7 separate regions of the Homo sapiens genome follow, and regions 1, 2, 3, 4, 5 and 6 are each linked to region 7. The links come from fine-mapping of genetic effects on gene expression. A gene starts in region 7. Each other region holds a variant in brackets. All regions are shown on one strand. Distances are from middle to middle. Region 1 overlaps SLC39A11 (solute carrier family 39 member 11). Region 2 holds the start of LOC107985005 (a long non-coding RNA gene). Region 3 overlaps SLC39A11 (solute carrier family 39 member 11). Region 4 has its middle 31 kb from the start of SLC39A11. Region 5 overlaps SLC39A11 (solute carrier family 39 member 11). Region 6 overlaps SLC39A11 (solute carrier family 39 member 11). Region 7 holds the start of SLC39A11 (solute carrier family 39 member 11).

The links. PIP is the estimated chance that this variant, and not a neighbour inherited with it, causes the effect.
Region 1: its variant is the best candidate, but not a certain one, in a credible set for the expression of SLC39A11 in whole blood (INTERVAL, PIP 0.85).
Region 2: its variant is the best candidate, but not a certain one, in a credible set for the expression of SLC39A11 in sun-exposed skin (GTEx, PIP 0.89).
Region 3: its variant is the best candidate, but not a certain one, in a credible set for the expression of SLC39A11 in B cells (Fairfax 2012, PIP 0.77).
Region 4: its variant is the best candidate, but not a certain one, in a credible set for the expression of SLC39A11 in neutrophils (BLUEPRINT, PIP 0.73).
Region 5: its variant is the best candidate, but not a certain one, in a credible set for the expression of SLC39A11 in nasal epithelium (TOPMed, PIP 0.75).
Region 6: its variant is the best candidate, but not a certain one, in a credible set for the expression of SLC39A11 in cerebellum (GTEx, PIP 0.77).

What each region holds. Positions count from the first base shown.
Region 1 is chr17:72,644,737-72,648,836 of GRCh38, forward strand. SLC39A11 (solute carrier family 39 member 11) reads right to left here. Exons shown (of 10, transcript NM_139177.4): 9 at 4,067-4,100; 10 at 1,213-2,926. The coding sequence ends at 2,848. Among named protein-coding and RNA genes, the nearest start is that of LINC00511, 6.3 kb to the left of the region's middle. The variant C/G (reference allele first, on the strand shown) is at 1,915.
Region 2 is chr17:72,625,699-72,629,798 of GRCh38, forward strand. The region is part of intron 2 of LINC00511 (long intergenic non-protein coding RNA 511); the gene reads right to left. It overlaps LOC107985005 (a long non-coding RNA gene), which reads left to right and starts at 3,934. Exons shown (of 3, transcript XR_001752991.2): 1 at 3,934-4,100. It also overlaps the pseudogene RPL32P33. The variant T/C (reference allele first, on the strand shown) is at 2,443.
Region 3 is chr17:72,713,826-72,717,925 of GRCh38, forward strand. The region is part of intron 7 of SLC39A11 (solute carrier family 39 member 11); the gene reads right to left. Among named protein-coding and RNA genes, the nearest start is that of LINC00511, 75 kb to the left of the region's middle. The variant C/T (reference allele first, on the strand shown) is at 1,590.
Region 4 is chr17:73,122,073-73,126,172 of GRCh38, forward strand. No RefSeq gene overlaps it. Among named protein-coding and RNA genes, the nearest start is that of SLC39A11, 31 kb to the left of the region's middle. The variant T/C (reference allele first, on the strand shown) is at 2,483.
Region 5 is chr17:72,693,757-72,697,856 of GRCh38, forward strand. The region is part of intron 7 of SLC39A11 (solute carrier family 39 member 11); the gene reads right to left. Among named protein-coding and RNA genes, the nearest start is that of LINC00511, 55 kb to the left of the region's middle. The variant A/G (reference allele first, on the strand shown) is at 2,314.
Region 6 is chr17:73,030,153-73,034,252 of GRCh38, forward strand. It overlaps SLC39A11 (solute carrier family 39 member 11), which reads right to left. Exons shown (of 10, transcript NM_139177.4): 4 at 1,404-1,562. Among named protein-coding and RNA genes, the nearest start is that of SLC39A11, 60 kb to the right of the region's middle. The variant A/G (reference allele first, on the strand shown) is at 2,212.
Region 7 is chr17:73,090,149-73,094,248 of GRCh38, forward strand. SLC39A11 (solute carrier family 39 member 11) reads right to left here and starts at 2,540. Exons shown (of 10, transcript NM_139177.4): 1 at 2,463-2,540. RefSeq lists an enhancer at 1-498 and a silencer at 1,469-1,700.

The DNA of each region.
Region 1 (4,100 bases), 450 kb before region 7:
TGGGAGTTAAGGGAAGACTGTTACCATCATGCATATGGGCAGGGCCTCCTTGGTCTCTGTGCCCTTAGGAAAGAGGAATAGGGTCACGGCTAGTAGGTCACACCCCAGTCATCTAAGGTACTGGCTGAAGACAGCATGGACTTGGAATGGAAACTGGAAGCGGGAAACCTAAACATCATCCAGGGTCTCTTCTCTAGGGCAGGAAATGGGTGCTGTAGCTTCTACTTGTACTTCCTGTGTTGTGTGTATCCTATTTTAACTCATTGCCTCTCTTTCCTCTCCCGTTATTCGTTTTATTGTATATGGGATGAACGGTTATGGTTAACTTTACACTTCAGCTCAAAGATACAGAATAATGAGATGGGCTTGTTATCCCACGGAGGTGGGGTATCCATTACTCACAGACCTTGAGTACAGGAGTTGAAAGACATTGGGGTAACCCCGTTGGAAAGGGAATGAAAGAAGTTTTGATTGTATGAGGAATAGCTACATATTTTAAGCAAGAGTTTTTTCTTTAAGTAAAACTAGAGGAATTAGAGTATATGTTGATATTGAACAGCAAAAGAGTAAGGCTGTAATGAACTTAATAGACCCTTTTTTTTTTTTCTATTTTGGCTCTGCACCATATGAACTCATTCCCAAATTTGGAAAATCCACTATTTTGCGAGTCTTGGGAAGGGGCAAGATCAGCTAGTTCATGGGCACAGGATCTAAGCTCTGGCAGCTGGATGTTCTGATCTAGAACTTCGAATGTGGAGCCAGGACACAAAGAATCCAGCTCAGTGTAGAGTTTGTTCTTGTGGCGGCAGTGGTGGTGGCATCAAGGTACAGCAGTTTCATTAGTGGTGTCCAGGATCTAGGGACCAGCTCTGGGGACCATGGCATCTAAACCAAGCTGTTCTCCAGGTGTGATTGGGTCATGGCCCCAGACCTCTGGCTTTCTTGGATCCAACCCATTTTCAAGCCCGATTCTCCGAAAGAGCCTGTGAATTCCCTAACAGGCTTCCACTCATTTCCTTTTCTGTTTAAGTAAGCTGCTGTTGGATGCTGTTGTTGCAACCAAGAATCTGACTAGCCCTTCCCATCTGAGCTCTTTCCTTTGCCTCTCCTAGTGTTGGATCAGGGAGGTGTTAGTTCCAACTTTAGTTAGCTCTTTTATGATCATCCTTGCAAAGAAGCAGCTTTGAGAAGTACTGAACGTAACACAGGTCATCCACAACATCCCCTTTTTATTGATATTAATCACAGTTATGAGGTCTTGTCCATCAGAAAGCACAATTTGCATTATGTAGAACTACATACAAAGACATAAAAATAAAACATACATACACCAACCACCACACCAGTTAATCTCAACCAATCAAACCTCTGAATGTGTCTTCAATTTTGATCATCAGTGCTTCGGAAGAACGTACATAGACCCAGCCCAAGGTTGGCCTTTGGGGTCTGATAGCATTCACAGAGCAGGAGATTCACCCTTGGAAGCAATTGAATGTGTAAACTCTGAGAGCAGACACTGACAATGCAATGCCTGCATACCTGACTCCTGGGCTGCCTTCCTTCTCAGCAGAGCCCACTGAAAGTCTCACGTGTGCCTTTAACCAATGAGGATGGCAGGCCTTATCTGTGTTTGAAGTGGACAGGTCATTGCTACCCCTGTTGGAGAAGCTATGTAAGAAGGAGTAGGCTGGCTTCTGGTCTAGTTCGACTCATTCTTTATAGGGACATTTCAGAATGATGAGTTGGCTAAAATTTACTTTAAAGGGGAAATGTAAAATTACCTCTTCTTTTCCTATCCCCTTCTTCCTTTCCCATCCTGAGCCCTCTGGCAAGGCCTGTTGCAGCTCAAGAGTTTTTGTCAGATTATAAGTTACCAAATGGTCAACAGGGAAGGACCCACAGCAGATTCCAAAA[C/G]TCTTTCATTCACTTGAGTTAACTGAAATGGCTCCTTCTTTGAGTAATTGAAGAGTTTGAGTTCTAGCAGTTTGCTGGTGTCTCCAAGTCTCTTAGAAACATGATGGCTATAAACTTATCAAAATAAATGCCTAAGAAATTTGGAAAGCGCGACAAATGGCCTTGCTCCTGGAATCCATTGACAGCAGAGGCCTCCGAACAAACCCACACTCTGTCTGTCTCTTCTTTCCACAGGGCTCACTGTGAGTTCACAGTTGTCCTCATCCCCTTTCCTTCAATAATGTCAATCTTTGCCTTTAAAAAAAAAAAAAAAAAAAGCCAGACTAGCCAATTTCCTTCCCTTTTTCTGTGTCCCCCTCCCATGTAGTATCTCCTTAGGGGGAGGTAAAGGAAGACATGCTCCTCTCTGGGCTGGCTCGGCCTTGGAAGGTAGCTTGCTATCTTTATGATGCTCCAGTTCCAACATTCTAGATGGGGAGAGGCTCAGCAGTGATGGAGCAGGAGGGGCGGATGAGAGGTGTGCTGGCCACTCTGCCCTGAGTCACTAGGCCACCAAAATGCTTAGGAGACGTCTTTTGGTAGCTCGCTTCTATAGGTGACCTTGAGGAGTTGGGAGGCAGATAGAAGGTCCCGAAGTGGAGATTTCCCTGATCTGAAGTTCCTTGATAATCCCACTGAAGAGAGAGTCCATTCAGTGGCCAAAACAAAGAATCTGTATTTCCATGACACCTTAAAATTCCCCATTAAATCAAAAATCTCCCTCAAAGCAAAGTAAAAATGGTTCTATTATAATCAGAGTCAATCAGGATAATGAGATGAAGAAGAGAGGAAGGAAAAAAGTTTTAATGTGAAGAAAGAAGCTTGTTGTCCCATAGAAGCCAACCACTGCTGTTTCTTCGTATGGCCTTTCCCGGGGTCCGAAGCGTCTCAGCCCTAGCCCAGGCCAACGTCCAGTGACATCATCACTACAAATCCCAGGATGGAGGCCCAGGATGCCAGTTTCCCATTACCACTGGAAGAGAAGGACAGGAAGAAAAGTAAGACCTTAATGATCCCTGAGGCCACGGCTAGGCTGAAGGCATCCTCTGCAATGTCCAATTCCAAGAGAAAGCACACTACCATTAATAATGGTAACATTTACTGGGGCTTACTATGTGCCAGGCAAACTAATGAACCATGGAACCCCAAACAACAACCTCATGAGGTCAGTATCATAATTATCCTCATTTTACTGGTGGGGAAACTGAGGCAAAGAGAAGTTACTTGCCCAAGGTCACCTATGATCGTTCTGTGGTCCATGTGTGAGTAATGAAGAGGGGTGATTATTTCTTAAAGATATTACTTAATCTGGCCTTTTAAACTAGCCTCAGAGTTATTCTTCTATAAAAACCAAAATAGGCTGGGAGCAGTGGCTCAAGCCTGTAATCCCAGCACTTTGAGAGGCCGAGGCAGGCAGATCACCTGAGGTCAGGAGTTTGAGACCAGCCTGGCTAACATGGCGAAACCCCGTCTCTACTATAAATACAAAAATTAGCTGGGCGTAGTGGTGGTTGCCTGTAGTCCCAGCTACTTGGGAGGCTGAGGCATGAGAATCACTTGAACCTGGGGGGCGGAGGTTGCAGTGAGCCGAGATCACACCACTGCACTCCAGCCTGGGTGACAGAGCGAGACTCTGCCATTAAAAAAAAAAAAAAAAAGAAAAACAAAACAAAACAAAACAACAACAAAATGGAACAAAGCAAACCCTTACTCCCACCTTCTGACACCTGGCCTATAGCTAGCCAGTGAAGACATGCATGTATCACCTTCACTGACATTTTAGAGCTCACCTCTCCCTTCATTCCAGCCCGAGAATCGAGAGACAGGATGAGAGAGAATATACAAAAACGATAGTCTACTGCATCAAGGGACGGGGGGCAGGTGTGTATGCCACTGCCTGGTGTCACCTCATTTCTTGACCCACATGCCCTTAGCTTCTTTTCTTTTAGTTTCAGAGAGCACAGTTGAGGAGGCAGTGGGGATGATCTTGGGAAGGGGCAGAGAGGGGGAGGGAATAAGGAAAGGAAAGGCAAATGAAGAAAGAGCATATCCCAAGGCTGGGGTCCCAGCTGGGACTGGGACAGGGACAGACAGGGAGGGAAGGTTCTCCAACCTGATCTGGGCTTCGGGGATGATGTCGTCCATGA
Region 2 (4,100 bases), 460 kb before region 7:
GGGTAATTTATAAAGGAATAGGTTTAACTGATTCACAGTTCTGCAGGGCTGGGGAGGCCTCAGGAAACTTGCAATCATGACGGAAGGGGAAGCGAACACATCCTTCTTCACATGGAGGCAGGAGAGAGAAGAATGAGTGTGAGCGAAGGGGAAGCCCCTGATAAAACCATCAGATCTCATGGGAACTTACTCACTATTATGAGAACATCATGGCGGAAACAGCCTCCGTGATTCAATTACTTCCTACCAGGCCCTTCCCATGACACGTGGGGATTATGGGAACTACAATTCAAGATGAGATTTGGGTGGGGTCACAGCCAAATCATATCAGACATGATTTACAGAGCCACGGAAGCCTGAGGGGCAGCATGAGGACAAAAATAAGCTAAGAAAGGCAGAGACATCAAAGGCTAAATGTGAAGACTCTGAGCTGAGCCATGAGCTGTCAGGTCTGGAAAGAGTCAGTGCAATAAAAACAGCATGGTTCATATTGGCTGTGGAGTCACCCAGACCTGGGTTTAAATTCCAGGCCACTGTCACTTTCAGGAGGGAAACCCAGAAGAGTTTTCTCATGCCTTTAAACTTTATCTAACCTCTTTGAAAACTTTATTTGAGGAATACACAAGATAACACACTCAATAATTCACTCACACTCCTTGTTCTTTACCTAACAGCAGCAACTTTGCCTTACTTATTTTCATATCTCCTGCATATGACACATAATATACAGTAATTAATATTTGTGGGCCCAGAGTAATCAACCAAATATTTGTTATGTGTCAGTAGCTACTTTAAATATTACAAAGCTTCAGTTTCTACCAGTGAAATACAGGGATTTGTTGGGCCTGGGCTACTGGAGTGTTACTGGAATAATAGGCCATTAAAGATCAGGAAGGCTTCCAGTTCAACGTGGTAGACGAAGTATGCATGTGTGCCCCCACTCCAATCTCACATTAAATTGTAATTCCCCAGTGTCAGGGGTGGGGCCTGGTGGGAGGTGATTGGATCATGGGGGTGGGTTTCTCATGAATGGTCTAGCACTGTCCCCCTTGGTACTGTCCTCATGATAGTGAGTGAGGTCTTATGAGTTCTGGTCGTTTAAGTGTGTGCAGCATCCCCCCACCCGTGCTCTCTTGCTTCTGCTCTGGCCATGTGACGTGACTGCTTCCCTTCACCTTCTGCCATGATTGTAAGCTTCCTGAGGCCTCCCCAGAAGCTGAGTAAATGCCAGCACCACGCTTCCTGTATAGCCTGCAGAACCATGAGCCCATTAAACCTCTTTTCTTTATAAATTACAGTCTCAGATATTTCTTTATAGCAACGCTTGAATGGCTTAATACAACATGATCCTTTCCACTCCTTCCCTAAGCCCCTGAAATGATAGTAAACAAAATTAAAAGATAAAAAAAAGTCAGAAATACAAGGAGAATGAGAGATGAGAGGACATGAGAGGGTTTTGAAAGTCAGCAGCTCTCTCTTCTCTCTTCCTTGGCGCTGCCTACGGAGGTGGCAGCCATCTCCTACTCAGCGTCGTGGCTACCCTCAGACCCCTCGTGAAGCCCAGGATTGTGAAAAACAGAACCAAGAAGTTCATCTGGCACCAGTCAGATCCATATGTCAAAATTAAGTGTAAATGGCAGAAACCCAGAGGTACTGACAACAGGGTTCATAGAAAGTTCAAGGGCTGCTCAACATTAGTTATAGGAGTAACAAAAAAACAAAGCACATGCCGCCCAGTGGCTTCCGGAAGTTCCTGGTCCACAATGTCAGGGGGTTAGAAGTGCTGCCGATGTGCAACAAATCTTACTGTGCTGAGATGGCTCACAATGTTTCCTCCAAAAATGGCAAAGCCATCATGGAAAGAGTAGCCCAGCTGCTCTCAGAGCCACCAACCCCAAGGCCAGGCTGCACAGCGAAGAACAGGAATACACAGCTCACGTGCATGTCTTATTTGTGTTTAAACAAAACCATAAAAACTGCCTGAAAAAAAAAGAAGAAAAAAAAAGTGTCAGCAACTGATTTAGCTGATTAAAAAAAGGTGAAGCACAACTGACTACAGAGGAAGAGGCCATGCAAGGTAGCCGACCCACACCTTGACACACCAGGATGCAAGGAATTGGATGGAGTCACCTATTGTCTCCCAAAGCAGTGTGTGCAATGGGGCAGGGAACAGCAGGCTTCCTTGAGAATCTGTACCAAGCTACCGGAGCTCCCGGATCCCCAGCACATCCCTGCCCTGTGCACCAAGCAACTCCTCATCCGCCACAACAGGAGACAAAACTGAACCAGGGAGAGTCCAGATGTGGAGACTGCATAGGGCAGGGGCAGCACAAGGACCAGAAGACAGGGGTAAAAAAGAAATGTCTACATGCCCCTTCACCTAGTTTGCTCTTCAAATGTTAGAGACCAACTTACAATCCACCCATGAGAACGGTCTGGATT[T/C]CTCTGTGGTAAGATAGATCATCCCAAGAGAAAACCCTAAACATAGTGATATTTAAGAGTCTCCAGTGAAAAGTGGAGTCTCTCTCTAAGTGCCCTACAGCGAGATTTACCAGCTCTCTGGTCCCATCCACCTCCACCCCTACATCCAGAGCATTCAATGAGGCAAGCATCATCAGGCAGTCGGAGAAAATTCCCAGTAGGAAAGACAGAGACTAAAATAAGAAAATAGTGTGGGGCAGTGGGGGTGGTGGGAGCAGGGAAGGAGAAAGAAACCTGGAGAAAATAGGGAGCAAAAGAGAAAAAAAAAGAAAAACGGTGACCTCCTTTCATTATTATCCCTGGATAGACAGAAGAAAGAATTGCCTTCAGGAAAGAAGAACAGAAGGCCACAAGAAGGAATTTTATGGCAACTAGAGCTTTTAAAAATTACTAAGTTTCTCTTATTCCTTAAGAGAAACAGTAAGACAGAATGATGAAAAAGAAGATCAAACCAGGGGTTCCAAGATCCAACAAATAAGAATTCCAAAAGAAGAACAGAAAAAAATTGAGGAAAGGAAATTGTGAAATAAATAAGAAAGTGAACATGAGTTTCCATATTGAAATAGATGATCAGGGGCCCAGTTCAATGACTGAAAAGAGACCCATACCAAGACCCTGTGTCATGAAACTTCAGCTCATTAGACATAAAATAACCTTCAAAGGAGGGAAGTAGGAGGTGAGGAAAGGAGAGACAGGGAAAGAGAGAGAGAGAGAGAAATTTCATATACAAAAGAGAAGGAATCTGAAGAGTATGGAACAACTCAATAGCAACACACAAGATGAGAAGGTAATGGAGCAATAATATCAGATTTCTAAGATAAACTGATTTTCCACCTAAACGTCTGTAGCAAACAAACTATCAATCAAGTGTGACAAAAACATTTTAGAATATGCAAGTTCTCAAAAAATTTTCCTCCACAGAAAACTATGGAAGGATATGCTCCATCAGAATGAGGGAGTAAATCAAGAAAAAGGAAGATTTGGGAGAGCCTGGCAGCAGAGTATTTCATTCAGGGATTGCCTAGGGTGGCATAAAACAGATCCATGAGCAAAGAGACATTTATTGTGCTCAAATACAAAAGTCCGGTGGGAGCAGTCACAACGCAACAGTTTCGTGATATCCCAATGTGCCCAGTGCTGACTGTCTGTCTTGTATTACCAAAGCTGGTGTACAGACTCCATCCTCATGCTTGCCTCATGGTGCTATGGTGGCTGTCCCATCTCTAGCTTTTCATCTGTATTCCAGGCAGGAAGAAGAATGCAGCAAATGAGAAAAGAACAGCCTCTACCTCAGAAAAACAAAACTTTCTTAGAAAAATTATCAGCAGGCTACTGCTTTTGTCTCCTTGGCCAGAATTGTGTCGCCCTGTAGCTACAATGGGCTGGGAAATACAGTTTTTAGGTTGGTATATTAGTTTCCTATTGCTGTTGTAATAAATAACCATGAAGAGTGGTTTAAAACAAAGCAAATGTATTATCTTACAGTTCTAGAGGTCAGAAGTCTGAAGTGGGTCTCACTGGGCTAAAATCAAGGTGTCCTTGGCAGGGCCAAGTGCTTTTCTGGAGGCTCCAGGGGAGAATTTGTTTTTTTATCTCTTCCAGCTTCTAGAGGCCACCTA
Region 3 (4,100 bases), 380 kb before region 7:
TGCTTTTCAAGTGCACTCTCGCTGAATCCCCCAACACTTTGACCCTGGAGCCATTCATAGGCCCATTATACAGATTTTAAAAAAGCAAACTGAGGCCCAGAGAAGTGAAATGACATTTCAAAGCTCACCCAGCTGGTAAATAATAACGTCAGGGACCTCAAATTTAGATCTACAGTCCACCACAAAGGCCGTGCATAGATATTAGGTTTGCCGCAAAATTGTGGGTTTTGGCTGGGTGCAGTGGCTCAGGCCGGGCGCGGTGGCTAAAGCCTGTAATCCCAGCACTTTGGGAGGCCGAGGCGGGTGGATGACCTGAAGTCAGGAGTTCGAGACCAGCCTGGCCAACATGGTGAAACCTCGTCTCTACTAAAAATACAAAACTTAGCTGGGTGTAGTGGTGCGCACCTGTACTCCCAGCTACTTGGGAGGCTGAGGCGGGAGGATCGCTTGAACCTGGGAGGCGGAGGTTGCAGTGAGCTGAGATCACGCCACTGCACTCCAGCCTGGGTAACAGAGTAAGGCTCTTTCTCTCTCTCTCAAAAAAAAAATTAATAAAAATAATAATAATTGCGGTTTTTGCCAATGAAATGGCAAAAACTGCAATTACTTTTGCACCAGGCTAATACTGTTCAATAATGGGTCGCCAAAAAAGGAAGGAAGCAGGTAAGAAGCGCAGCAGCCAAGTTCATAACCCTGCTGCTGACAGTGTCAACATCCACCTCCTGCTGAGTGCCTGCTACGCAACCAGTACCACCCAAGGGCTTTCCTTCCACTTTCATTTACCCCTTCAGGAAATCCCATTTACAGATGAGGAACCTGATCCTTAACAAGGAGAAAGAGCTTGAGTTTGCACACCGTGTCTGTGTTGAGCCTCCTTGGTAAAGACCAGAGAACACCACCTTTTTGTGATTATGGGGCTGTCCCCAAACCTGTCAGGAAGGCGGATGACATGGTCTGCAGCTGTTCACCTCCTGTGGACTGCCCTGTTTCAGATCTGGGTTCATGGAGTGTTTCACCTGCCTGGCTGAAGAAGGAACGTGGCCGTACTTGTGAAGCTAATAGTGAGAGGTTCATTTGTTTAAACAGCAGTTGGTGGAAAAGCATGGAATCAAGGATCTTTACACGTACATATTCAAAACCACTTCACCTCGCATCTTGCATCCATGTAGCCCCTTCACGCTCACAATTTTTCCTCTCGTGATGTCTATTCTCACTCAGGGCCAACTCCACGGGTGTGCGACCAGTGCAGCATCCCAGGGTCTGCACTCAGGAGGAGGTAAGGGTTGGCTGCATACATCTCATGCACCCAGCCACGAAAGGGGCCCCGGGAGCCCGCGAGAGGCTCTCTCCTCCAGGAAGTACCCCTCTGCCCAAGGGCACGATGTTACAAGGCAGATAAGATGCACCATGACTAAGTTCTTCAAAAAATTAAAAATCAAATTACCGAATGATTTAGCAATGCCTCTTCTGGCCATATACCCCAAAGAACCTCAAGTGGGGTCTTGAAGAGATATTCTTACATTCATGTTCACAAGCAGCACTATTCACAAGAGCTAAATGGTGAAACAGCCCAAGTGTTCATGGACAGA[C/T]GAATGAACAAACAAAATGATGCATCCGTGCAACCTAATATTGTTCAGCCTTCAAAGGAAGAAAATTATGACACGTTACAACATGATGACCCCTGAGGACATTATGCTAAGTGAAATAGGACGGACACAAAGGGACAAATACTGTGTGATGCCACTTCTATGAGGTCCCTAGAGGAGTCACATTCATAGAGACAGAAAGAAAATGGCAGTTGCCAGGGGCTGGGGGGAGATAAGGAATGGGGAGTTAGTGCCTAATGATTAATGTATACATAACATACCATGTACCATCTTTTTTTATTTTTGATTTTTGGTGGAGTCTCGCTCTGTCACCCAGGCTGGAGTACAGTGCTGTGATCTTGGCTCCCTGCAGCCTCCGCCACCCGGGTTCAAGCGATTCTCGTGCCTCAGCCTCCTGAGTAGCTGGGATTACAGGCATGTGCCACCTGTAATTTTTGTATTTTGAGTAGAGACGTGGTTTCACCATGTTGGCCAGGCTGGACTCGAACTCTTGACTTCAAGTGATCCGCCCGCTTCAGCCTCCCAAAGTGTTGGGATTACAGACGTGAGCCACCGTGCCCGGCCAAAATGTACCATCTTGATCAATTTTTAAGTGCACAGACAGGTCATGGTAAGTGTGAAAAAATACCTAACTCCCGCCCTCGTTCTCCTCGCACCCTCCCTGACCCACCCCAAAAAGGCCCAAGGGAGCCCCCCTGCATTCCCAACCTGCAGGCATGAGGTCATACAAGCGGGGTGTTGGGCAGAGGCCCCTGGCAGATGGCAGGGTAGGGCCCCCAGCACTCCATTCTGGACAGAATGAAAACCTGACGACCTATCTGATGGAATTACACGGAAGAAAGGAAATTCGTCTTTTAAGAACAAGCGGGAGGCGGATGACTGAAGTCCCAAAGAATGCTGTGGTTGAACCTTTTTTTTTTTGTTGTTTGTTTTCTGGCACAGTCTGTCTCTATGACTGAGCTGAGTAACGTGTTTCCCGTGACAAAGGCCCCTTTCTTACGACAGTTTAATAGCTCCAATACGGGGGACAGCCCTGACTCTCCCATGGGCCAGCGTCTGAAGGCGGCCACAGAAAAAGGGAGGGAAAGCCGCCGCTCTTCTCCAAGTTGGTCCAGACTGAACTGAGAGAGTATAAGGAAAAAAAAAATCGGAAACTTTAACCCACTCCTGAAATAAAAAATAGAAGTTACCAAAGGGATGGGGAACACACATGCAGAGGCACAGAGAAGAATATGGATGAAAAAGTGGCCTCAGAGCCCGGTGTGGTGGCTCACGCCTGTAATCCCAGTACTTTGGGAAATCGAGGTGGGCGGATCACTTGAGGACAGGAGTTTGAGACCAACCTGGCCAACATGGTAAAACCCCATCTCTACAAAAAATACAAAAATTAGCTGGGCGTGGTGGCAGGTGCCTGTAATCCCAGCTACTCAGGAGGCTGAGGCATGAGAATTGCTTGAACTCAGGGGGTGGAGGTTACAGTGAGCCAAGACGATGCCACTGCACTCCACCCTGGGAAACAGAGGGAGACCCTGTCTCAAAAAAAAAAAAATATATATATATACACACACACACACACACACACACACACACACATATACACATATAAAATATATATACACATATATACATATATACACATATAAGTATATGTATATATGTATATACTTATATGTGTATGTATATATGTATATATGTATATACTTATATGTGTATATATATGTATATACATATATATAAAAATAAAAATTTTAAAAAATTTAAAAAGAGGAAAAAAAAGTGGCCTTGGGGCTTTGCGTCCAACTGTGAGAGGAAGTGGAGAAAGCTAAGAGAGGACCTCAGGGACAGAGAAGACGCCGATGGAGGTAGGGAGACCCGATGCCCTGGTTTCTTAACAGCTGCTGTGATGAAGTACCACAGGGATTTGTTCTCACAGCCCTGGAGGCCAGAAGTCCAAGATCAAGTTGTCCGCAGGGCTATGCTCCCCCTGAAGGCTCTAGGGGAGGATCCTCCCTCGGCTCTTCCAGCTTCTGGTGGCCCTGGCACTTGGTGGCATTCCCCAGCTTCTAGACACATGACTCTAGTCTCTGCCTCCACTACCACAAGGCCGTCTTCCCTCCACGTGTCCCTGTGTGGCCACGGGGCACTGTCCTCTCCGCATGTGTCATCCCTCCTTGTTTTATAAGGGTACCCAGTCATGTTGGACTTAGGCCCACCCTAATCCAGTACGAGCTGATCTTAACTAATTACATCTGCAAAGATCCTACCGCCAAATAAGGTTACAGTCACAGGTCCTGGGGATTAAGACTTCCATACCTTTCTGGGGTGCATGACTTCAGCATCGCTCCTTATTCTGGAACTTACAGGACAGGTCACTCTTGCTCTGTAGCTCTCCCTCGGAGTGACCCTGCACATCGGCTGTCTAGGAGGTGAGGCTGGAGAAGTGAGTCATGACCGCAAGGCCACCAGATCACCTCAGTACCACCTGTCTGGAGT
Region 4 (4,100 bases), 32 kb after region 7:
GCCTCCAAAAGTGCTGAGATTACAGGCATTGAGCCCCTGGCCCCCCAGGGTTCTTAAGTCATGAAAACAGAGAAAGTGATAAGACATCCACATGATAAGCAGCCCCAATTCTTCCTGGCAGTCAGATTTCTTTCTCTTCTTGTATGCCTTCTTTGGGCCTGAGCGCTGAGCTTCCTGCATGATCTTACAGGAATTGACTAGACACTAAAATAATTGCTTTGCAGCAAGATAGAGCCAATCCAGAGGGAATCAAGACATGAGTCTGGTGGTTGACATCACGCAAGTTTATGGAGGGAGCTATGTGTTTCACAGAGCGACAATGGCTCAGCCCGCCAGCCTGGCCTCCTGAAGCCAGCGCCAGCCTGGAAGGAGAGACCGTCCCTTCTCCCTCTTCGGGCATCAGATGATAAGAAAGTCCTGCTGCCAGGATGAACTTCAGGAACTTGAGGATCAGTAAGATGGTGGCTCCTGCACAACGGGGTTGCTTTTAAACAGAGGTGATCATTAAACATTCACCGAATGAAGGAGTCATGGATAAGGATGTGGATCTTGGGATCAGCGTGTGAAAACAAATAACTTGTAGGTATTTCATTTATTTGTTTTCAATGGTAGGGGGGCAGGGAAAGGGGTTGTGGTGTTTGTTTGGTCTGTCTTCCCTATGAGCATGTCAGCTCCAGAGTAGGAAGACAATGGTGATATCGTTCAGCCTGGTATATCCAGCACCTAAAGAAATAAATCCAGAGTAGGCACTCAATAAATAAATTTGCCAACTTCGCCAGTGAATTTATTGGTTCAAAGATGTCCCTCTCTCTTAGACCAGAGAGTCTCCAATGGCTAGCTTGGGGATAGGAATGGAAAGGACAGGGGAGAGGTCTCAAGACCTATTTATTTTATTTTATCTTATCTTATTTTATTTTATTTTATTTTATTTTTTGGAGACAGGGTCTCACTCTGCTGCCCAGGCTGGACTGCAGTGGTGTGCTCACAGCTCACTGCAGCCTCCACCTCATGGGCTCAGTCAATCCTCCCACTTCAGCCTCCCTAGTAGCTGGGACTACAGGCATGCACCACCACACCCAGCTAATTTTTGTATTTTTTGTAGAGATGGGGTTTCATCATGTTGCCCAGGGTGGTGAAACTCCTGGGCTCAAGCAATCCACTGGCCTCAGCCTCCTAAAGTGCTGGGAATACAGGCATGAGCCACCATGCCTGACCCATCTCAAGACCTTTAAAAAACTACATATAATAGCTAATGTTTTACCATGCTCAAAGCAATGTTTGTGCACAAAAGTGTAAAGTGCACAAAGCCCGAATAACAGGCCTGGGAACACTTGGTGGCAGGAGGCCACAAATCCCTTAAATGTCAAGGAAGAGGCACAGCAGAGCGTCAGCTTCTCTGAGTCCAAGGCTGAACCACAACATCACCCACCAGTGGAAGCACCACCGCTTTCCAAACCTGACCTGTAACAGGGACTCTACTGCCCATCGATTAAAAGTGTGGTGTCTTTTTCCAGAGAATTGCTACCCAGTAGCTTTAGCTTTGCCTCTGAGGTCTCATCAATCCTTTCCCTCTTATGTAAAAGCAGCATTCAGGTCCTCTCCGCAACTCTTCCCTCCTTGCACCTAAAAATCTGTTTTTCCAACCGTTCCTCCTTTGACCAAGCCCAGGCCCTCACCACCCACTAGGTCTCCTCTCTCAGCTCTCCACTCTCAACACGCTCTCACAGAGTGTGCTGAGGCTTGAGTGCCCTGACGAGAACGTGAAGCCTTGGGCCTCCCTGCTTCCTGTGGGCACAATGGCTCTGTCTACGCACAGGGCTCATTCTTCCTACTTTGTGCCTCATCCTCCTTCTCCAGTTTGGAAAATACCAAAATGAACAAAGGAGAAAGAAAAGTCACCCATAACCCACCATTCCCTCTCTCCCTTCCTGCCTTCCTTCCGTCCTTCCCTTCCTCCCTCCCTTCTTCCTTCCTTCCTGTTTTTATGAGGGATATAAGGTAAAAAGTAGGCTTGGTGTGATGGCTTATGCCTATAATCCCAGCACTTTGGGAGACCAATGCAGGGGGATTGCTTGAGTTCAGGAGTTCAAGACCAGCCTGGGCAATATAGTGAGACCCCTGCCTCTACAAAAAAAAAATGTTTAAAAAACTAGCCAAGCATGATGGCATGTGCCTGTAGTCCCAGCTACTTGGGAGACTGAGGCAGGAGGATCACTTGAGCCCAGGAGGTGGAGGCTGCAGTGAGCAGAGATCACACCACTGCACTCCAGGTTAGGCAACAGAGCAAGATCTTGTCTCAAAAAGTAAAATTAAATTAAATTAAATTAAAATTGAAATGAAGTAAAATCCTCCTCCTTCTATCTTCACCAACAGAGGTAACCACTGCAAACAGCTTGGATAGTTCCTTCTAAAATGTTTTACTGTCATATGCAAACATATATAGATATAGATGTATACACACATACATACACATACATATACA[T/C]ACGTTTATATCTATATAAATACACCCAAATGTATGCACACATATACACATATAACTTCTAATTATTTAGTTACATGTATTTCTGTATATGTACTTAAAGAAATGTAAATTTATAAGTATAGATAAAATTATGTGAGCTACAATTACATTAATTATATAATTACTAAATTATACTATCATCTTTTATTACATAGATCTTACTCTGGAACTTGTCTTTTTCACTTGAGTGGCATATCATAGATACTTTCCCAAGGGGCTTCACACCACTCTCCCTCTTCCTTTTTTGTCGTGTCTGTGGTGCTCCATTTGGAGCTGGGCTGTGTTAAAATTGGCCAGTCCCCTCCCGAAGGACTTTGAAGATGTTTTTAATCTTTTGCGTTGTCTGATGTTCTAACAATGATTCTTTTTTTTTTTTTTTTTTTTTGAGATGGAGTCTTGCTCTGTCACCCAGGCTGGAGTGCAGTGGCGTGATCTCGGCTCACTGCAACCTCCGCCTCCCAGGCCCAAGCAATCCTCCTGCCTCAGCCTCCCAAGTAGCTGGGATTACAGGCACCTGCCACCACACCCAACTAATTTTTGTATTTTTAGTAGAGACAGGGTTTCACCATGTTGGCCAGGCTGGTCTTGAACTCCTAACCTCAAGTGATTCACCCACCTCAGCCTCCCAAAGTGCTGGGATTACAGATGTGAGCCACTGTGCCCGGCCAATTTTTTTTTTTTTTTTTAATAGAGATGAGGTCTCTTTTCATTGCCCAGGCTGGTCTCAAACTCTTGGGCTCAAGCGATCCTCTCACCTCGGCCTCCCAGAGTGCTGGGATTGTTGGTATGAGCCACCGATTCCAGCCTCTAACGACTATTCTTAGGCACCTATCTTTAAGCACCAAGGAAGGTATTTCTACAGGACCCATTCCAAGAAATGCAAACTGGGCCATAGGGTGTGTGCATGTTTCATTTTGATAGATATTGCCAAATTACACTCCTGAAAGCGTTCTCCAAATTTCACTTCCATTACCAGTGACTTGGAATTCTTTTTTCCCCCCAAATCTGATAGGTAAAAAATAGCACCTCACTGGTATCTTCCCCCAGTGGTTGAGGCCCTCCTGTGTGCTAATGCACCAGCCATATCCTCAGAAAGGCAGGTGGAACGGTGGTTCAGCACAGGAGCCCCGCTGTCCAACGGCCAGGATTCTAGCATACTTCTGCCTGTTATTAACTAGTACCTCCATTTCATCTACAAAATGGGCAAACTCATAGTGCTGATGTGATGTATGAAGGGTACGTGTAAAGCTCTTAGCACAGAATCTTTGCCCCATTCTAAATGGAAGCAAGCCCTTGGAAATCTACATTCTCTTTCTTTTTTTTTTTTTTTTTTTTTTGAGACGGAGTCTTGCTCTGTCACCCAGGCTGGAGTGTAGTGGCGTGATCTCGGCTCACTACAAGCTCCACCTCCCGGGTTCATGCCATTCTCCTGCCTCAGCCTCCTGAGTAGCTGGGACTACAGGCGCCCGCCACCATGCCCGGCTAATTTTTTGTGTGTGTTTTTAGTAGAGATGAGGTTTCACCGTGTTAGCCAGGATGGTCTCAATCTCCTGACCTCGTGATCTGCCCACCTTGGCCT
Region 5 (4,100 bases), 400 kb before region 7:
GATTCAAGCGATTCTCCTGCCTCAGCCTCCCAAGCAGCTGGAATTACAGGCGCCCACCACCACGCCTGGCTAATTTTTTGTGTTTTTAGTAGAGACGGGGTTTCACTATGTTGGCCAGGCTGGTCTCGAATTTCTGACCTCGTGATCCACCCGCCTCGGCCTCCCAAAGTGCCGGGACCACAGGGGTGAGCCACCGAGCCCAGCCCCCAGCTCTTTATAGAAAAAGCACCCACCTCCCTGCCCTGACTCTCCCGAGGGGACAGAGTCCTCTCCTTGCTCAGTCTGGGGCTGGACTGAGGGAGTCCCAGAGGAAGAAGAGGAGGAAGATAGAGGAGGTTGTGCTGGGCTTCCCAGCTTGCAGCATGGCTGGCAGACACAGTCTTGGGGAAGTGGAGCCAGCGGTGGGTGAGGCAGGGTGGCCCGAGCCCTCTCTCATGCTGGCTCTGCTGAGCATGGGGACTCCTGAGAAGGGGGTCTCACAAAATCCACTGTGAGGTTGCCACCGGGCTGTGGAACATGTAAATGAAAACCAAAGATGGTGCTTCATTCTGAGCTCATGTGATTTTCTTCTTTATTAAACTTCAGGAAGGAGAGCTAGAATTGGCTCCTTAGGATACCTCCCCGAGCCCTGGTACCCATCGTGGCTTCCTTCTCTGGCTCCTGTTTCAGAGACTTTGGAAGAACTGTCTCCTTGGTCTCAGACATCACGATACCCGGATCTCAGCTGCTCGCCACTGTGCAGCTGTCTGCAGGGCGGCTCTGTGGGGCTCCCCTCCATTGCCCCAACCACTGCGGGACTTGTTTTGTAGCAGGGCTGGTTTGGAAATTCCTTTTGGGTCACCTCCAGTGGTTCCACGGCAAGCTAAGGAATGGTGGCCAGAAGATGACGGACAAAACTTGAATACGAAGGTGGAGGAACCTTGTGGGCAGGGTGGGGTGGTCCCCTCAGGGTCCGTCTACCACAATCCAAAATAGCATTTTCCCTTTGACAAACCCTGGGCCACCAGAGAGAAGACCTGGGGCTGGGGTCTGCTGACTGTCATCCCAGGCTACTTTGCCTTGCAGATGCTCCTGTCCTGGCTCTGTGAACTGGAGATGCTGGTGGCCTCCATGGACATCCATTACGATATTTCCTCCCCGGGAGAGTCTCTGTCTCTCACTCCATCTTTCTGGACCGAGGCCAGGCAGGTGCTGTGGGCATGGCTGCCCTTAGTTGAGCATAGACCTTCCCTTGACCCTTCTTTTGTGATCTCCTCCCTTTAAGAAGCAGCTGCCCCTTTCTTTCTGCTGGTATGCAGTTCCTTGGTTCTCTTTGGAAATCAAGGGAATGGGGTACACAAAGGTCAGAAATGCCAAGAAGGGTAGAAACGGGAAGTCTGTTTTGAGTTACTCTGACCTCATCTCCCAGAGGCCTCTGTCCCTCCCTTGATTGGGTCTCTGCCTCAGTGTCTCCTCCTCAAACAGAACCCTCTCTACCCCCACTCCTCCCTATCATGTTCTCAGGAGTTTTGAGCCATTCCTGGCTTGAGTTTTTCTTCCCGGCACGTAGTATCCACAGCCTGACATGTCCACATGCATCTGCTCATCCAGGGAATAAGCTCCATGAGGGAAGGAGCTGCCTGGGCTGCAGCCAGCTGGATTCTGTGCCTAAAACAGGGCGCTGCACCCCCTGGGTGCTTCCTGGCAAGCTGTTATTGCTGAATATTTCTCCCATCCAAGTACTAACTGGGCATTATGGCCATAGACTGAAAACTTCTTTCCTTTGGGAGAAATCTCACACAGAAGAGGGTGCAGAGGGTTGCATGGTAGTCCCCAAAAGATAGCCATGTCCTAGAACCTAGGAATATGATTTATTTACAAAAAAAAGGGTCTTTGTGGATGTAATTAACTTCAGGAGGTAGAGATAAGATCATTCTAGATTATCTAGGTGGGCCCTGAATTCAATGACGAGTGTCCTTAGAAAAGACAACCAGAGGAGAGACCCACAGAGGAGAGGAGGAGGAAGGCTGCGTGAAGTGAAGGCAGAGACAGAGACCGGAATGATGCGGCCACCAGCCAAAGGATGCCTGCAGCCACCAGGAGCTGGAAAGCAGCAAGGAAGGGTCCTCCTTCCAGAGCCTGCAGAGAGCACAGCTATCTGCTGGCACCTTGATTTCCAACTTCTGTCCTTGGGAAGTGTGAGAGAATCAACTTCTGCTGTTCTAAGCCACCCAGTTTGTGGTAATTTGTTAGGCAGCCACAGGAGACTAATGCAGGGGCAGGCACCACCACACCTGGATGCTGGGCGTGGTGAAACAGACCCCGCTATGGGGC[A/G]AAGAGTCTGCAAGGAGAGACAGACAATAATTAAGCGAGGAAAAAAGTGTATATAATTACAGCTTGTGAAGATCTCGGAAGGAAACAGGTGGGATTGGGAGTCATGGGGCAGGGGGAGGGGAAGGCAGGAGTTGGCATTTCAGTTGCGGTCCAAGGTGGAGATCGGAAAGCATGGCAAAGCCTGAGTCCCCACCTGGCTCCTTACCCCGGCCTCTGAGTCTACTTGCTCCTTCCCCTGTCCTCCACCCCACAGGAGGGATGATCCTTCTAAGCACAAATAATAGCAGTCGCCATTTACAAGGTACCTACCAGGACAGCTGCAAGAGGGGACGTGGCTAATACTAATCCCCATTCTAAGATCAAAGAAGCCAGGCTCAGGGAGGGTAAGTGACTCTTCCATGTTTAAACCGAGATCTGATCCCGGAGTCTGTTCCTGTTCCGCTGGGCTTAATGGACTCTCCTCACCATTCCCATCTCGCTCAAAAGCGCCCAGGTGTTGTCTGCTGTCTGACATATGAGACCCACGCTCCTCAGAGAAGCATTCAGGGCCCCCTATCTCTCTGATTTCCATATAAATTTTCTTCCAATCTACTGCCACACCCCACCAGGGAACTTCCAATGTATCCACACAGACCTACTCACCTGTTTTTAGCACCTTTATGAACCTGCTTTTAATAATTATGTTATAAAGTGTATTATAAATCATATTATAAAAAAATACAATTGTGACATTGTTACTGCCTACCATTTTTGAGCCCTGCTATGTGTCCTGCTCTGTGCTAGAGGCTTGGCCTGTATGATCAGCTTGCGGTTACAAGCGCCTCATGAGATACGCTTCAGCAGCTGCGTTTTATAGACAGAACTTAGGACCCTGGCCCGAGACTGCTGATTATGTGTCTGGGCCCAATGTGTTCTACTACATTCTGCCCACAATGTTCTTGTTTCTTTCTGCTAATAGCCATAACACCAGACGTTTCATTTTCACGGCTTTGCAAAATACTTTTACATATTTCTTATTCTTTTTCTTTTTTTGAGACAGGATCTCACTCGTCCCCCAGGCTGGAGTGCAGTGGTCTGATCACAGCTCGCTGCAACCTGGAACTCGAGAGATCAGGTGATCCCCCCATGTCAGCCTCCTGAGTAGTTGGGACTACAAGTGCACGCCACCACTTCTGGCTAATTTTTGTATTTTTTGTAGAGATGGGGTTTCGCCATGTTGCCCAGGCTGGTCTCGAACTCCTGAACTCAAGTGATCTGCCCACCTTGGCCTCCCAAAGTGCTGGGATTACAGGTGTGAGCCACCAAGCCCCTGGCACATATTTCATTTTATTGCAAAAACTTTCCTGATTATCCCCAGATGAAGGTGTCTATCTTCAATTTGCTCCCAGTAAGATCAGGGACAGAGGGTGGAGGCTCTGGGGAGAGGCTCTGTCTCACCCAATCTCCCACAATCTCCATCAGTGCCCATCACCACCACACCATCTCAACGAAGCCCAAAATCCAAGTGTTCCAAACAATGAGCTCGCTATGCCACAGTGCAAATCCCTGGGTTGCTCTGAAAATCAGATCACCAGTGGCAGCTAAGTCCTCCCTCTGAGAAACACTGAGTCATATCCCCTGGCAGGGACCATGACCTCTGCTCCATTCTGTCCCCCTCAGAGCAGAACCCCCCACCCCCGCCCCGACCCTCATGATCCTAGGGGCTCCATAAATGCTCCTATGTCTGATTTGACTGATACACTCGCCACGTGGATGGGCTCAGGAAGGATGAGATACCACACAATACT
Region 6 (4,100 bases), 60 kb before region 7:
GGAGGCGGAGCTCAGAAGATAAAGCTCACTTGGCAGCTGGCTGCCCACCTCCTGCTATGTGGCCCAGCTCCTAACAAGCCATTGACCAGTAGCGGTCCTTGGTCTGGGGGGTTGGGGACCTCTGCTTTAAGACAGTATCACAGCCGTCCAACATCACATTCAGCTGTCTGATCCAAAGGACAGTTCTTCTGTAACACAAGGAATCTGTTTTACATTAGCCCAGGACCTAGAGGCATAGTTCCTGGGAATCGTTATAGTTACAGAATCACCCATCATTCCTTCTCTTTCTCCACTTGGGAAGTTAAGGAAAAAAGAAAGCAGGAAGGCAGGGAAGAGAACTTCAACCTACCTACCTCCCGGGGTACATGACCACTGACTCCAGTGAGTCTGACTTAATCCTGTCTCACCGTGATCCAGCAGGAGAAATGGACTTTGACCCATTTCTCTCCAGAGAGTTCTCCCTGCACCACTTCCCTTTCTAGGGGAGCAGGGAACTCTGGCACCAGTTCAGGGGTGCTTCTGCCATCTCTAGAACTTGTCGGGCCCAGTGTCTGGTAAGGCTGTCTCATGCTGTTATGATCTTGGACCCCTTTCCTCTACTGACAGTGGTGCATGCAGATGACAGGGCTTTAGCCAATGGCTTGCGGTTCCCATCGCATGACCTGGCCCCAGCTCTCTTGGCTCGGTGATCACAGCCACATGCCAGGCTGCGGTTTGCACGGTGCTTCCCTGTAAGCACATACATGCTCATTCCCAAATCCAGCTCTCCTGCCATATGTCAGTAAAAAAGCCTGAAATCTCTGGCTTATCCCCAATTCCAGTGCATTTTTACATTTTTAAAATTTTACTGTACAGTCCTTCGGGGGAGTTATCCTCAAATTAAAGGATGGAAAACTAGAGCTCAGGGATATACAATCAGTAAATGGCAGGTGTGAGCTCCAGCCCAGACCCCTGCTGCACAGAGCCCTGCCTCACCCTCCTGTCAGCCCTCATAATGTGATCCATGGTCAAAGGCCTAATGCTACAGATTGTGGGGGTGGGGCGGGAGTATCATCTCCCTGATGATGTCATACTCTCAATAAAACCCAGCACCACAGTGATCGTTCTAGGTCCTCTCATATATATACAGTGCCACCCAGCACATCAGCTGTACTCTATATTTTTAATGAAATGTGACATTCAAAATCCGAACTTACTAAAATGTAAATAAGGGGGTAATTACCAAGACATTACTTTAAGAAAGAAATCACCGATCAGTTCCTCTAATGCCTTGTTCTCTGTTTAAATACCACTGGCTACTTAACAGAGACATTAACAGGTATGTCAGGTTTGATCAGAAATAAATTCATTGCACAGAGCTGGTTGTATCCCGATACGACAGCTAAAAGTAGAGTGGTACTCACCAAGTGAGGCATCAGGAGGTCAGCCAAGTAGACAAAAGCCGCTCCAAGGGTGAAGCCAACAGCCACAGGGAAGAAGGCAAAGGCACCGAAGCCCCCAGAGGACGTGGCCATCTCAACTGCTGGGGCCAGAAGAGACCAATAGGAAGCTGCCAACATGACCTACAAAAACCACAACGAGAGATAAACGTTAAAGCAACTGCAGAAGGCTTTCCAGGCAGGACCTCAGTTGCTCTCTGTGGCCCAGATTGACCCCTACAATTTCACATGAGTTCAGTCTTTCGTCCCAGGTTGGGAGGTACTATCAGAAACCAAAAAGCCATCCCCAGAATTCCCGGAGCTTACTATTGCAAGAACTCAATTTTGGGTAGGATAGAGTTGACCTTGGGAGGATGCAGTCCAGTTCGCCATCATCTAGCCTATAATTCAGTGGTTCTCAACCAGCAATGGTTTTGCCCTCCACAGGACATTTGGCAATGACTAGAGACATTTTTAGCTGTCACACTGGGAGGAGCGTAGGGGGAGGTTGCTACTGGCATCTAATGAGTGAGGCCAAGCATGCTGGTAAACAACCTACAATGCACAGCACACCCCTGACAACAAAGAATTATCTGGCCCCAAATGTCAATGAGAATGCTGTTGCGAATTCCTATTCTTTTTTTTTTTTTTTCTGAGATGGAGACTTTCTCTGTCACCCAGGCTGGAGTGCAGTGGCACAATCTTGGCTCACTGCAACCTCCACCTCCCGGGTTCAAGTGATTTTCCTGCCTCAGCCTCCTGAGTAGCTGGGATTATGGGTGTGTGCCACCAC[A/G]GCCAGCTAATTTTTCTGTATTTTTTAGAGATGGGATTTTGCCATATTGGCCAGGCTGGTCTCAAACTCTTGAACTCAGGTGACCCACCCACCTCGGCCTCCCAAAGTGCTGGGATTAAAGGTGTGAGCCACCATGCCCAGCCCAAAAAATCCTATTTTAATTAAATTCTTCCAAGACAAATTGCTCACTACTTCACGAGTTCCACTGTATTGTAACACAGGTCTAATTATTACAAAGTTCTTTCTTATGTTGAGCTGAAATCTGTCTCCTTTCCACTTTTACCTTTTAGCTGTGGTTTTGCTCCCTAGAACACCAAAAACTGTGTCCCTCCTGTGTGATATGTGACAGCCTCTGAAATATCTGAAGATAACCAGCAAGTCAACGTCATATTGGTCTCATCAATTATCTCTAAAAAGGACGAAGGGAACTAATATTTATTGATCACTTGGTATTTCCAAGGGCCAAGATTTACATTTGATATCTTATCTTTTCATCACAACCACCCCAGAGGCAGATGATGTTTTCTATTGCGATTTGTAGATAAAGAAATTGGATCTTGAAATAATAAGGTAATTTGCTCATGGTCCTACAGGCCAGCGGTCCCCAATCCTTTGGGCACCAGGGGCCAGTTTCATGGAAGACCATCTTTCCACGGACCAGGCAGTGGTTTTGGGATGAAACAGTTCCACCTCAGATCATCGGGCATTAGAGTCTCATAAGGAGCTCACAACCTAGATCCGTGGCATGTACAGTTCACAATAGGGTTCACGTTCCTATGAGAATCTAATGTCGCCACTGGTCTGACAGGAGGCGGAGCTCCCGCGGTAATCCTCACTCACTTGTCCGCTGCTCACCTGCTGTGCGGCCTGGTTCCTAACAGGCCATGGATCAGCACTGGTCCATGGCCCGGGGATTGGGGACCTCTGCCATAGGCAGTAAGTAGCAGATCCAGGGAAATGACCAAGCAGGACCATAACCAACTCAATGACGGTAGAAACATGAAGGAGAAGAAAAAAAATTAGGCTAGTCTCAAATCTCAGCAAAGTCAATTCAATAAAAGGTTCTCCAGCAGATGAGCTGGCACAGTGGTGCATGACTATAGTTGCTGGAGATGAGCTGGCGCAGTGGTGCATGACTGTAGTCCTAGCTACTGGGGAGCCTTGAGCCCAGGAGTTCAAGGCCAGCCTGGGCAACATAGCGAGACTCTGCCTCTTAAAAATAAGAAGCTCTCCAGCACTGACCAAACTAAACACTCATCCATGGCTGTTTACTCTTACAGATGCTATGACATCTTTTGGCTAGAGTACACCCACCACCCATCGTAACTATACGGCAGTCATCGCCGACACAGAAAATGTTGAATGGGTTTCTAAAAATTACTTAATTATGCCTTGCCTTAAAAAATCATCTGCATCACCCATCTTCAAAATAACACTCAGAGTGACAGAAGCAGGTATTACAACAGCAACAATAAAGAACAAATCCAAGCATAAATCCATAAATTCCCTTCTTCCAGCTGTCAAACATGCACAGTCACTTGCTCTGGGCCAAATTCTCCCAGCAAAAGTCTTAGTGCCACCCATGGAAACCTGCAAAAGCCTCCAAAACTCTAAGAATGAAAATGCCTCTGCTCAACAGGATGGGAGCTGAGGCTGATCCGTTCAACTCCATGAGCCGGGCTGTCAATAAAGACCATCAAAGGAAATGTGAGGGCTCCCCCTCCCTGCTACAGCCTAATCCACCCCTTTTCCAGACTTTGTCTTACTAGCTTTAGAATTCAACAGCCCTCAGTAGCTGCCCTGCATGGTAAACTCCCCATCGAAGAGGACCTGCAACAAGACACAGAGATGGAAAGGTGCCCGTTCTTCTTTGCATTTTTTGAAACAGA
Region 7 (4,100 bases):
AGACGCTGCCTCGATTGACCCTGGAAGGAAACCATGGCAGAGTGTGGACGCAGCCCTTATGCCAAGCGGCTCAGCAACACACCCAGGCTCAAACCTAGGAAGGGTATAGGTCCAGGTGAGCCCAGGTGAGCCCTGGCTCAGCCCCTGTGCCAGAAACTCTGAGATAAATAGCATCTATGGAATCAGACTCTAGTTCCCGCACTCTAAACGAACTGCACCAACTGTGAAAACTGTGACCACGCCAATTAAAGAAAAAAAAAATCATTTTCAAAAAACTACTACCCTTTACATCCGTCATCTTGCTAAGCCACCCTAAAAAGAGGGGTTGGTCTTTGTTTTTAAACCAAGCCATCTGGACCATTACACCAATCATCTATTCCGAGTTGCTGTGGACAAAATTTCAAACAGCATTTACAAAGAACAGCACAAAGGGATCATCCTCTTAGTACTTATCATCCAAGACAGGGCATAACAAAAACACCTTTCTTTCCTGTATTTGAATGTGCCTCTTGACAGCTACAGAAGAGAGCAAACAATTTACATTTGCCAACAGGCCAAAGTCAATGTGGATCTTGTGGGCTGGTGAACAGAACAGAGGGAGCTCGTGGGTGTTCCTGGTGGTTAGTGGGATAGGGAAACACCCGTCTAAGCCTGTCCCCATGTATATCTGAGCACCCTCCTGAGTAAGAAAAAGGGACACAGAGGGAAGACCGAGGCCACCATCCTTTCCATCCCAACAGGAGCAGCATTGATCACGGGCAATGCAAGCCCAGTGCCCCTCGGAGAAGTTTCTTCTCTATTTGCTGTTTTAAATCCTCGCTACAAGGGTGGTCAGAGAACCAGCAGCACTGGTCCGGCTTGGGAGCTAGTTAGGAATGCAGAAACTCAGGTCTCACCCCAGACTTTCTGAATCAGGGTCTGCATTTTGTGGAATTCCATGGGGGATTCTTATGCACATTAAACTGTGGAAAGCAAAAGATTAAAACTGGTAAAACTTGGCCAGGCGCAGTGGCTCATGCCTGTAATCCCAGCACCTTGGGAGGCCAAGACGGGCAGATCACCTGAGGTCAGGAGTTCGAGACCAGCCTGGCCAACACGGTGAAACCCCATCTCTACTAAAAACACAAAAATTACTTGGGCGTCGTGGTGTGTGCCTGTAGTCCCAGTGCCTGTAGTCCCAGCTACTCGGGAGGCTGAGGCAGGAGTAATCGCTTGAACCCGGGAGGCGGAGGTTGCAGTGAGCCGAGATCGCGCCACTGCACTCCAGTCCGGGTGACAGAGCAAGGCTCTGTCTCAAAAAAAAATAAAAATAAATAAATAAATAAAACTGGTAAAACTTCTACAATACCAAGAGCTTAGAAAATGAGTTCTCCTGCCCCATGTGGGATTGGCAAGAGCAAAGAAGAGTCCCAAAAGAACAGAAAGTTTTCTGCAGAGTCTCAAGAGAAGAAAAAGTTTCTGGCAGAGTCCCAAGAGAACAAGAAGTTTTCTCTAACCGGCAGACCAGTAACAACTTTAGGACACAGCATCTCCATCACAGCTTACACAATGGGGCTCAGAATTCCTCACGATGGGGATATTAATTCCATCAACCCTGATTCGTTAGCAGCAGGGAGAATCATTCTCTGACCGTTCCAACTTTTAACATGCCAACAGCCTGTAGACTTGTACACACCTGCCACAGCAGCACATGGGCATTCCCGGCTGATTGATACAGGTTTGTTTTCTTTATTTCCTTTCTCCCCCTTTTAAACCTGTTGTTCCGCTTCCAAGAGTCAGTTCAAGAGGCTGGTGAAGTTGCAGAAGTGGAAACAGCACTAGGGCTGCTGGGCCTTAGTGGAGCTGCACACACATGCCCTAACTCCACGAGGGGGAATCCAGCAGAAGGATTCAGGTCTGGGCGGAGAGGACTGTGGAAAAGTTCTCTAATGCCTCGCTACTCAAAGCGTGGTCCGCGGACCACCCAACCTGGGAATTAGTTAGAAATGCACACTGTCACGCCCCACCCAGACCTGCTGCAAGTTAACCAGATTCCCAGTCAAGTTCCAGAGGTCCAGCTAACAGCCAGAGCAAGTGGGAGGGGCCTGGGAGCAGCTGGATTTGTAGCTGCCTCTGCTCCCAGGAATCCCGGGTACCCCCACACACCGCCTAGGAAGGGACGAACGAAGAGGATTTGGGTTAGGACTGTAAAAGGAAGGCATGTCATTGCCTTCCAGATCACCCTGGAGAGGGACATAGCCGGGGTCCGGGGACTTCCTTCCCACCGCCCCTCACCCTCCCACCCCGCCCCGACACCTGCCAAAGCCTCCAATTTCTCCTCCAAACCCCTCCTCTCTCCAGGCGTACCCCCTTCCAAGCTCCAGGTGGCTGCCCTTCCAAGTCCCACACTCTTGTCCTGATGGCCTCCGACCCCGGGCCTCGAGCCCAACCAAAGGCACCGAAGGAGAGAAAAGCCAACTCACTAGGGTGCCCTCTCCAGCCCCCACTGCACTTCCATCAGCCCCCGCTGCCACTCTCTCGCCGGCTCCACTCCCGCAGTCACTTCCTGCTTCCCTCCCGCACACGTGGCCCTCCCGCCTCCGGGCCCCGCCCCCTTGGCCGCAACTGGCAACTCCCGCCTGAAGAATAGATTCTCTGGTTCACAGCCGTCTGCAGGCTCAGGAACAGATCTGGGCGGGCAGAACAGAGCCCTGAGGCCAAGAGCCCAGCAGTCTGCGAGTGACTGCAGCCCTAAGGGAAGCTACAAACACCCAAGGAAAGAGCCCTTTGTAACACCCCTGATGTTACTTATGCTTCTACACCTTTGGCAGCCAGGTCCATGCCACTGGGTGCGCAGCAGAGCAGGATGTGCTGTGTGTGTGTTGCGGGAGAGGCTGGGGGCGGGTAATGTGATGGCATCGGCATCATTCTCCAGTCAATGACCCTCAAAAGAATCACTGGAGGGGGTCAAACACAAAATGCCAGCACCCCCAGAGGCTCTGGTTCCGTCATTCTGGGTGGGGCTGACATTTTGGGATTTTTTTGTTTTTGCTTTTGTTTTTTTGAGATGGAGTCTCGCTCTTTCGCCCAGGCTGGAGTGCCGTGGCCCAATCTCGGGTGATTGCAGCCTCTGCCTCCTATGTTCAAGCGATTCTCCTGCTTCAGCCTCCCGAGTAGCTGGGATCACAGGTGCATGCTGCCAAGCCCCGCTAATTTTTGTTTTTTTTTTTTTTTTTTTTTTTTTTTAGTAGGGACGGGGTTTCACCACGTTGCCCAGGCTGGCCTCGAACCCCTGACCTCAAATGATCCACTCGTGTGGGCCTCCCAAAGTGCTGGATTATAGGCATGAGCCACCGCGCCTGGCCTGAGATCTTGTTTTGAGCTAGGAGTTGCTGATGCTGCTGTCCTGGGACCACCCTTTGAAAAGCACTGCCCTAGGTCAAAGGCTTTGATCTGCAGGATTTCTGTGAAAAGACCAGAGGATAGGATTGACTAGATTTAGCCAAAAACAAAACAAAATAAATAAATAGATAGAAACAAGATGCCTGGGCTGGGCGCTGTGGCTCACGCCTATAATCCCAGCACTTTGGGAGGCCGAGGCGGGCAGATCACAACGTCTGGAGATCGAGACCATCCTGGCTAATACGGTGAAACCCCGTCTCTACTAAAAATACAAAAAATTAGCTGGGCGTGGTGGCAGGCGCCTGTAGTCCCAGCTACTCGGGAGTCTGAGGCAGGAGAATGGCGTGAACCCGAGAGGCCGAGCTTGCAGTGAGCCAAGATCACGCCACTGCACTCCAGCCTGGGCAACAGAGCAAAACTCCATCTCAAAAAAAAAAAAAAAAGCCTGATTAAATTTGAATTTCAGAAAAATAACGTCATTTATTACTATAAATATGCCCCGGGCAATGTGTGGGACATACTTATGTTACAGGCATATTTGTTGTTGATCTGAAACTGAAACCCAGCTGAGTGTCCTGTGTTTTATTTGACAACATATCAGAGCGTGACCTGAGCAGAAAAGCTACCCGTGGTCTCGATGGCCATAGCCCAAAGGGTCCAATAACAGGCCTCTTTCTTCCAGTGGAACTAGGTTGTTCACACTGACGGTCGCACCATAT